Regions from separate parts of the Homo sapiens genome. Here region 2 is linked to region 1. Evidence: fine-mapped expression QTL. Tissue or cell type: transverse colon. Region 1 holds a variant in brackets; the other region holds the start of a gene. All regions are shown on one strand. Distances are from middle to middle.

Evidence for each region. PIP is the estimated chance that this variant, and not a neighbour inherited with it, causes the effect.
Region 2: ANKDD1A starts here. The variant in region 1 is fine-mapped to the expression of ANKDD1A in transverse colon (GTEx, PIP above 0.99).

What each region holds. Positions count from the first base shown.
Region 1 is chr15:64,871,853-64,877,124 of GRCh38, forward strand. No RefSeq gene overlaps it. Among named protein-coding and RNA genes, the nearest start is that of PLEKHO2, 33 kb to the left of the region's middle. RefSeq lists enhancers at 1,144-1,233, 1,254-1,303. The variant C/T (reference allele first, on the strand shown) is at 2,258.
Region 2 is chr15:64,909,297-64,914,462 of GRCh38, forward strand. It overlaps ANKDD1A (ankyrin repeat and death domain containing 1A), which reads left to right and starts at 2,606. Exons shown (of 15, transcript NM_182703.6): 1 at 2,606-2,668. The coding sequence starts at 2,635. RefSeq lists silencers at 1,834-2,128, 2,202-2,251, 2,452-2,631 and an enhancer at 2,818-3,361.

The sequences.
Region 1 (5,272 bases):
AAGACGGAGTCTCGGTCTGTCATCCAGGCTGGAGTGCAGTGGTGTGATCTCAGCTCATGGCAACCTCCGCCTCCTGGGTTCAAGCAATTCTCCTGCCTCAGCCTCCTGAGAGCTGGGACTACAGGCGTGCGCTACCACGCCTGGCTAATTTTTGTATTTTTAGTAGAGATGGAGTTTCACCATGTTGGCCAGGCTGGTCTCGAACTTCTGACCATGAGTGATCTGCCCGCCTTGGCCTACCAAAGTGCTTGGGATTACATGCGTGAGCCACCGTGTCCAGCCCAGTAGAGGGTTTCACAAATCACAAGGTGGCTATCATCAGACAGGACCCAGGACAGGGGGAGGGGCAACCAGATTGCCCCTTCCTCTACCCCTGCCTAGGCCCTGGCGGCATCCTGTCTCGGGAGTCACTGTGTTTTGTTCCCTTCTCCCTGTCTTGTCTTCCTGCCTCCCCACCCCTACCCTCATGTCCCAGACAAAAGGGGTGTCAGAAAAGACAAACTCACTCCACAGAGGTTTCTGTGACCAAGGAGGCTCTGTGATGGAACATGGATGGTGGAGAGGTGATGATGGAAATTCCTCCCTGTTGACATAATTTAACAAAATTCTTAGAGGAAACAGCAGGATGTAAGTAGAGAAAACATGACTTCAGGTTTGGAGGCAGACACACCTGGATTCAAACCCCAGGGGTAGCCAGGTGCAGTGGCTCACACCTATAATCCCAGCACTTTGGGAGGCTGAGGTGGGTGGATCACCTGAGGTCAGGAGTTCGAGACCAGCCTGGCCAACACGGGAAAACTCCGTCTCTACTAAAAATACAAAATTAGCCAGGAGTGGTGGCAGGCGCCTGTAGTCTCAGCTACTCAGGAGGCAACAGAGTGAGACTATGTCTCAAAAAAAAAAAAAAAAAAAAGAAAAGAAAATGCTTAATAAACTCCAGCAGCCTGGCCTCACAGAGCACCTACTGTTTGCCAGGCCTGTTAACCTCTCACAGTCACCACAGTGGCCTCACAAGGAAGATGTAATTTCACTCCATTTTACAGGTTAAGAAACTGAGGCTTAAGCAACTTAGGTAGGGGACCAAAGTTAGTGTCAGGACCTGGGATTTGACCCTCCTGGGGTTTTGGCCTGGGGCCACAACTGACTGCTTTCTGCTATTTGTCTGGAGGGTCTGTGATTTCAGATGGAGGCTCACCCCAGAGTCCTTGGGGCACCCCCACCTTTCCTGGCACTGGGAGGATACCCCAAGGCCTGGGCAGGTTCTCCACCAGCTGGCTATGGCCCAAAGGAGAGGCTTCGGAGGACTTTCCCTTATAAGGACAACAGCTCAGCTGTGATGAAACTTCTCAGCCTCCTAGCTGGGGAGGCGGGAGAGGGGAAATGACGGTGGCTCCAAGGGTTACAGCTGAGTTTGAGCCTCCTCAGGAACTTGCCCACAAGCCTCCACTCTCTGTTGTCATAATTTTATGGGAGGAGGGGCCAGGCAGGGCTTGGGACCAGAGGGGGTGGCCCACAGAAGGGAAGATGCCTACATTGAGGCCTAGGGAGGAGACAGGACCCTTCAACATCCAGCAGGCAGCTTGCAGATCTGGACTCCAAGCCGTAGGCCTATCTGGCTTCAAACTCACACTCACCCTGGGGAGGATTATCAGAGGGTCCAGAAGGCTATTAGGCCAGCCATCCCTTTCTCTCTTTTGTTTTTTGTTTTTTTTTGAGATGGAGTCTCGCTCTGTCACCCAGGCTGGAGTGCAGTGGCACAATCTCGGCTCACTGCAAGCTCCGCCTCCCGAGTTCATGCCATTCTTCTGCCTCAGCCTCCCGAGTAGCTGGGACTACGGGCGCCCGCCCCAGGATGGTCTAGATCTCCTGACCTCGTGATCTGCCTGCCTTGGTCTCCCAAAGTGCTGGGATTACAGGTGTGAGCCACCACGCCTGGCCTCCCTTTTTATTTATTTATTTATTTATTTGAGACCCGGTCTTGCTCTGTGGCCCAGGCTGGAGCCAGGCTGGAGTGCAGTGGCACGATCTTGGCTCACTGCAACCTCCTCCTCCTCCTGGGTTCAAGCAATTCTCCTGCCTCAGCCTCCCGAGTAGCTGGGACTACAGGCACCCACCACCACGACCAGCTAATTTTGTATTTTTAGTAGAGACGGGGTTTCACCGTGTTGGCCACGTTGGTTTCGAATTCCGGACCTCAGGTGATCCACCTGCCTCGGCCTCCCAGAGTGCTGGGATTATAGGCGTCAGCCACCGTGCC[C/T]GGCCCCTTTCTCCCTTTGGACCTCTAAAGTGGAGTCTTAAAGAGCAGGGTGTGTGGGGCTGGTCTGCTTTTGGCCTTCCTCCCCATGAAGCCTGTGTCCCTAGGGGACTGCCCTCCCCAACACAATTCGTCAGCCCACCGTCCAGTCTGAGAAACTATTCCATCCATGGAATCACAGGATATTGGGGCTGATAAGGATCTTTGAGACGTCTAGTCTCACCTGCTGGTTTTAGAGAGGAGGAAATAACAGCTCAGAGCGGCCAGGGGAGGTGGTGGCTCATATGTGTAATTCCAGCACTTTGGGAGGCTGAGGTGGGCAGATGTCTTGAGGCCAATCTTCAAGGCTTGAGACCAGCCTGAGCAACATGGCAAAATCCTGTCTCTACAAAAAAAAATTAGCAGGGCATGGTGATGCAGGCCGAAGTGGGAGGATCGCTTAAACCTGGGAGGCGGAGGTTGCAGTCAGCTGAGATCGTGCCACTGCCATCTCAAAAAAAAAAAACAAAAGCTCAGAGGGGACCTGGTATTGCCCATTTGTTTTGTTAAAATGTGTGTGTGTGTGTGTGTGTGTGTGTGTGTGTGTGTGTGTGTGTGTGGCTTTCTCTTGGTTTCCCATTAAAACTTCCTTTTTAAGAAATCCCAAGTTAACCGAATAACAGGATAAAGAGCTTTTTCTACACCCAGATCTGGTTAGTTCTGGGGGTCAGTGTTTCCCTGAAGACCATGTCTGGAGTTGGCAGCAGGGGAGGCAAGATCCCAAGGGAGAGATGGGTGTGGCAGATGGAGAATCTGTCTCTGACACTGCTGTGCATAAGCTGTGGCACCTGCAGTGGCTGCTCAGCCTCTTGGAATTGTAGTCTCATCTCTTAGGGGGAGACAATCACTCCTGGCAAGGCGATTTTGAGGATGAAATAAGATAATTTAGATAAAGCATTTGCTCAGGGCCCACCACATAGCAAGGACTTAGTAAATGGATAATCATATGGTGTATTGGGCACCTACTCCATGCCAACATTACATTAGGAGCCGTGGATTCCAAGTACAATAAAATGGGATCTTTCCTCAGGTTGCTCACTGCCAGTCAGGGAGACAGGCACTCCAACTCATAAATGCAATGGGACAAGCTCTGTGTTAGACCCACAGGCAAATTCTGTGGCAGCAGAGAGCAGACATCAATGGGCTGTGTTTGCTGAGGGAATCAGTCGAAACCTGAGGAGGAGGTTTCTTTGCCTGGGCCTCAAAGGAGGAGTTAGAGTTTACAGAACAGAGGTGGCAGGGAAGGACATTGGAGACAGAGGGAACAGAGTCACAGTGGGTTACCGGGTTACTGGAGCCATGGTCAGCTCTTTGTGTAGTCTCCTATTGGCTATAAGTAAGAGGTGGGGGACTGGGAGGTGAGGTGGGAGAGGGGAGCGGGGATGCTGGTCACCCAGAAAGGTTGGACTTTGCCCTAGAGACCAAGGGAGTCTGGGGAGGGGGTCGTTTCAGGAGGTGGGGGGCGGCAGGTGGGGGTGTGGGGTGGAGACTGGAGGCAGGGAGGGTAGTTAGGAGGTAGTGACAGTGAACCAGGGGAGGAGTGGTGAGGGCCTGAACTGCAACAGTGGCATTAGGGGTAGAGTGGAGGAGAACTGGGGACTTTGGGGCATTGTGAATGTGGGAGAGATGGAATGGGAGAGAGGGAATTCAGAGATGACTCACAGAGTTCTAAGGAAGTGGGAGTACCTTTTTGAGATAGGAAGCCCCTGGGGAGGGCGGGATGGGGAGAGGATGGTGGCCATGTGGAGGGGTCTGGTGAACTACTAGAATTGAGCTGAGGCAAAAAATTGACAGTCAACGGGCATCCAGACAGTGGATAATTAAAGCCACAAGCACTGCTGAGTTATATCTTGTATGTTACTTAAGATTAGATTTGACTGTGACTGACAAGAGGCCATGGTGTCAGAAGAGTTCATCAGAGGCTAAACCTCAGCTCCGGGGGAGTTAGGCCAAGACAGCAGTGACACAAATTCATTTATCTTGCATGAATTAAGTCTGGTGGTAGAGGCCATCTCTATCATGGCACTCCATGGTCATCTGGGACCCAGCCTCCTTCCCTCTTACTGCTCTGCCATCTTACCCCTTGACTTTGATTTCTGGACCCATGAGGTGATACAGCTGCAGCCCCCGCATAAGTGTTCTCACCCTTGGGAAGCAAGAAGGGGTATAGGATGCACACTTTCCCTTTAGAGACACTTTCTGGAAGTTGTACTGCTGCCTCATTGCGAGGGTGGTCTTGCAGCTAGCTGCCTGGTGTTTTTTTTCCTGTTGACTGTGTGCCAGCTGAAAATCAAAAGTCTTATTACTAAAAAAGAAGGGAGGGAATGGAGCTAGAGCAGTGTTTTTCAAATGGGGATGATGTTGCCTTCAGAGGACATTTGTCAATGTCTGGAGATATTTTTGTCACAAATGGGGACATTGCTACTGGCATTTAGTGGGTGGAGGCCAGAGATGCTGTTGAACACCCTACAATGCACAAGACAGCCTCCCCGACAACATCTTGGGGGCTCCTCATCCAAAATATCAGTAGTGCTGAGGTTGAGAAACCCTGACCTAGGTGGACAACGTATAGTCTCTTTGCCACAACCAGGACGGGGTGTAGAGTGAGTGGACTAGTCACCGTAGATGTGCAAAGACACCTGTCCCTGGCAGACCATAATGTCAGGAGAGTTCAGCAGCAGCCCAGACCTAGGCTCTGGGGTTTTATCAGATTTGTCCCAGCTTAGTGGGGCTCTTGTCCTCAAAGAGGCTTTGTTTTGTTTGTGTCTTTTTGTTTTATTCATTTCTGTTTTAAAAACTATTTTTATTTTTTGTAGGAATAGGGTCTCACTATTTTGCTCAGGCTGGGCCCTTGTTTTATTCATTTCTTGATGTTGAATTCTGAAGCAGAGACCCAGGTTGGAGCCTCAAGGAAGAGGCTTAAGATAGAGGCGGGCTGAGCTCCGTGGCTCATGCCTGTAATCCCAGCACTTCAGGAGG
Region 2 (5,166 bases), 37 kb after region 1:
CCCGGGAGGCAGAGATTGCAGTGAGCCATTGCACTCCAGCCTGGGCAACAAGAGCAAAACTCCATCTCAAAAAAAAAAAAAAGAAGTGTGCAACCTAGATTCCTCACATGCACAGTTCACAATAGGGTTCACCCTTCTATGAGAATCTAATGCCACCACTGATCTTTCAGGATGCGGAGCTCAGGTGGTAATGCTCGCTCTCCTGCTGCTCACCTCCTGCTGTGTGGCCCAGTTCCTAACAGGCCATAGACCAGTACTAGTCTGAAGCCTGGGGGTTGGAGACCCCTGGGATTAGGGATCTGTGATAGTAATTTGCCTTACACAGTTGCGGAAGGACCAGAAGGGGAGTTGGGGATCAGAGGAGTCCTTAGTCAGTCATCTGAGAAACCAAGTATGTCCAGCTGCTAAAATGGAACCACAAGGGAAAGCTCCTGGGGAGGTCTATGGGTGGTACTAATGCCCTGGGTCTGCAGCCAAGTCCGCGATGGCCTGGGGCCACTGTTGGTCAGCAGGCTCAGCAGCTGGGAAGAAAAGCTGGATGTGGAGTGAAGGAGAGTGACAGCAGGCTGGAAGCCAGTGGTGCCCTCTTCATCCATCACCACAGCTGACTATGACAACCTTCAGAGACTTAACTTTGAAACATGTAAATACTTTACATAATTGTAAAGCAAAATTAACATTTAAAAATATCAAAAAACAAAAGCAAAACAAAATAAATAAACCATGCATGTTGAGTTGGTGGCATAACCACATAAAGAACTATTCCAAGTGACTAAAACAGTAACGTGACACTATGCCCCTAGTGGGATGTACATGTGACAAAAGCTTTACAAAAAACATTTAAACTGTTTTCAGGAATAATATCTTTGGCTAGGCGTGGTGGCCAAGCACTTTGGGAGACCTAGGTGGGTAGATCACCTGAGGTCAGGAGTTCGAGGCCAGCCTGGCCAACATGGTGAAACCCCCGTCTCTACTAAAAATACAAAAATCAGCCGCGTGTGGTGGCACACACCTGTAGTCCCAGCTACTTGGGAGGTTTAGGCATGAGAATCGCTTGAACCTGGGAGGCAGAGGTTGCAGTGAGCTGAGATTACGCTACTGCACTCCAGCTTGGGCAACACAGTGAGACTCTGTCTTAAAAAAAAAACAAAAACAAAAAGGGGGGGGTGCGGCGCAGTGGCTCACACCTGTAATCCCAACACTTTGGGAGGCCAAGGTAGGTGGATCACCTGAGGTCAGGAGTTCAACACCAGCCTGACCAACATAGTGAAACCCCATCTCTACTAAAAATACAAAATTATCCAGGTGTGGGGGCGAGTGCCTGTAATCCTAGCTACATGGGAGGCTGAGGCAGGAGAACTGCTTGAACCCAGGAGGCAGAGGTTGCAGTGAGCCGAGATCATACCACTGTACTCCAGCCTGGGCGAAAGAGTGAGACTCTGTCTCAGAAAAAAAAAAATCATATCTTTGATTATTATGTTGGAATTGTTATTTTGAGACCATTTTGAGGGGTTGGCTCAGGGCTCATTAATTGTTAGCTGTTATCATTATGTTATTTTTCAAAGGCCATTCCAAATACCTCCTTCTTCAGGAAGCCTTCTTGAACTATATTCTAAGGACTAATGACTGAAAGATGCTCTTCCTCCTTTGATCCCCAAAGTAGTAGTAACTACACCTATCATGGCTTTGCTGGCTTCTTGCCTTGGGATAGAGATGCCTGAGACCCCATTATCCCTAAATTCAAAGAAGCTGTAAATGCCTTTAAGGCAAAAAGGACATGGACATCCCCCAAGGGTCTGAAGTGCAACCCATTCTGGTGTATTTAATGTGTATCTTTTTGTTTCTATGTGTCTTTGCAAGTCTGTGTTGTTTGATGTAAATGCATTTGTAATATTTTTATTGATATTGTTTCCTAGGTCTTATTTGGTTTGGTTATTTACTTTTTCTGCCTAGCACTAGGTGTTTAAATCCATATTGCCACGAATACAGCGGGTCCCTTGCTTTGAGTGCTGCACAGTTTATCCATCTGCTCTTACAAGAAAGGGCGCTTAGATTGTCTCCAACTCCCAGCAACCACAGCAACACAGCAACCAACATCCTCCTACATGTCCCTTTATGGGCCTGATAAATCTTTCTGAACACTGATAAATCCGACCATCTCTTCATATGCTTGCAGACCTGCTGAGGTTGTGGTCCCTTAAACGCCAGCTCACATCTTTGGGGTTTGACTTTCTGCGCCTGAGGCGGCGGGCCCAAGGCTCAGCCCTCCTCCCCGAGTCCCGAGAGGCGCGAGGAGGATGAGCCTGCCAGATGCCTTGTGCGCATCTATCTCCAGGGCCGGGGAGGCTGGGCGAACTCCCGGGGAGGAGACTGGGTCAGGGACACCTGCGGAACTCGGCGTGGCCCCGACCCGCCGGCCTCGGGCGCGGAGGGGTGGGCAGGTTAAGAGAGCAGGAGGAGGGACCTGCGTCCTGGTCCGGGACTGGGGTGGCCGGGGCAGCTGCGCTCCTAGCAGGCGGGGCGTGGAGTCTGGAGGAGCGACCGCCCCGTCCTCTCGGCTCCCCGGGCCCCGCCCCGGCGGACGCGCGCCTCGCGCCCGGGCACCAGCGCGCGCAGGGGCTGCGGAGCGGCAGGATGCAGGAGGAGCTGGCGTGGGAGACCGACGGCCGTGAGTCTGCCTGGAGGAGGGAGGGGGGCGGGCCGAGGCCGAGAGGACCCCCGCATCCGTTTGGGGAGTGCCAGGGGTGAGGTTGGCGCCCTCCGAACGGCCACCTCCGTGTGGGGCGTCTGTGTGGCTCCGAGCGGAATGGTTACCGGTCCGCGCACTGGGCCGAGGGGACCTTGCCAGTGCGTCTGGGACTCGGGGACCACACCCGCCAGGTGAGCGGGGAGCAGCGGCTGAGAGGTTAGCTACAAATAATAAAGGTAATAGCGATCCTTGACTGCGTGCTGTACTTTGTGTGCCAGGCCTTGACCCAGGAGAGGCACGTCATTTGATCTTCGCTGCGGCCATATGGGTAGGACATTATGTTATCTTCATTTCGCAGATGAGAAACTGAGGCACAGGGTGTTCAAATGAGTTGTTCAAGGTCACACAGCCATTGAGTGGTAGAAGTGCTGAAGGGCCCAGCTCACCCGGAATGCTGGGGCTGGATAGCGAGTGGAGACCGCATCAGATGGGGCACGCACTCAGAGGAGAGGAGCCTGACTGGCCACAGGTGGAATGAGGGCACCTCCGAACCTCCCTCAAGGAGTGCGCCCAGTGCCAGGGCCTCTAGGCCGGGCAGCAGCGTCTGTGTGGGCATCAGCTGGCCTGGGGCAGCTTTGGCTGCACCGTCTGGGAGAGGGGAGAGAAAGATTGTGTCGGTGTCTGCACTGTGAGTCCTTGATCCTGCAGCCCTGGCTGAATCCTGACAGCTGAATCCCGGGGCTTTCCCTCAAAAGCGCATAGTGCAGCTCACTGGATTCCTTTGAGACCTATAGTGTCCAAAATGCTGGCACACTGCATCTACTCAGCTGAGGGATGTGTTGGGGGTGGGAATGCTCAATCAAGATTAGGTACATGGTTCTGCCTGGGGCGGAGGATCACTTGAGTGGGCCTGCGAAGAATGTGTACCAATGGAGCATTGGGGTGTGTGGCAGAGAATTCTGGACAAAGACCCAGCATGGGCAAAGGCTCAGGTAGCTCAGTGGGTATTGGATGTGGCCAGAAAGAGGGTGCCGGATGGGAGGTGGATGGAAGAGATGAGACTGGACTTGATTTCATTCTAACTTAACCTTCTCTGGCCTGACCCTATGCAGTGTCTGCTGGCTTCCCATTGGAACTCCTGGCTGTTTGCCAATACAAACCAGGCCAATCCCCCTAAGCTGCACATAAGATAGAGGGTGCCAGACAGGAAGGGACCTATACAGATCTCTTTCTTCACCCTCCCCCAGTTTTACAATGGAAGAAACAGACCTACAAGGGGGATGTGACTAGCCCAGGATCCTGCTGCTGGAAAGTGGCAGGGAAGGTACTAGAACCCAGGCCTCTGTAAGCTCACATCTGAAGTGGCAGCTCTCTTTGGCTACCAGAATTTGACCCTTTGCCTTGGAGGAATAATAGTGATGATGATGGTGGTGGTGGTGGCGGTGTGGTCATTATGTGCCAGACACTGTGCCAGGGGGTTTTCATATCTCATTTCTAATCATGATATTAACCTTGTAGGGAAGCTCGCACTCCTGTTTTGCAGATGAGGAAACTGCCTAACACAGCTAGGAAGTGGTTAAGCCAGAGTTGAACCCAGGACTGTGTGATTGCCCCCCAGGGTAGCAACTCTGAGATCCACAGGTTGTATCCATGAGGCCCCAGAAAGCTCAAGATCCTCTTTCTCATCTGGAGAAGACTGTGTGGAATTTATCTAGAAAAACAAACTGCATGGCAGGCCTGTCTCTCACCTCAGTGCATCTTAGCCTTCCCTACCAAGACACTCGTCACCTGTCCCTGGATACACAAAGGGGCTGGGTTCAGACATTCATACTGGACCAAACATGCAGGCTATGGGGTCACTTGCCCTGCAGTGACTATGGAAAGGGCCAGCAAATATTTGTCTCTGTGCTAGTATGTGTGAGCACTTTGGGAGAGGGGACAGGCATCTATTCGTCTGGGGATTGTTGGTGTCACTCATACAAGCAGAGATTTTTTTGTTTCTGTTTTCTTTTTTTTTTTTTGAGATGGAGTCTCGCTCTGTCACTAGGCTGGAGTGCACTGGCATGATCTCGGCTCACTGCAACCTCCAGCTCCCAGGTTGAAGCAATTCTCCTGCCTCAGCCTTCCGAGTAGCTGGGACTACAGGTGTGTGCCACCATGCCCAATTAATTTTTGTATCTTTAGTAGAGACGGGGTTTCACCATGTTGGCGAGGATGGTCTTGATCTCCTGACCTCGTGATCCATCCACCTCGGCCTCCCAAAGAGCTGGGATTACAGGTGTGAGCCACTGCACCCAGCCTGTTTTTGTTTTCTTTTTAGAGACAGGGTCTCACTCTGTTGCCCAGGCTGGAGTGCAGAGGTGCAATTATAGCTCATTGGCAGCCTCAAACTCCTGGGCTCAAGCAAGCCTCTTGCCTTAGCTTCTTGAGTAGCCGGGACTACAGGCATGTGCCACCACACCTGGCTAATTTTTAAA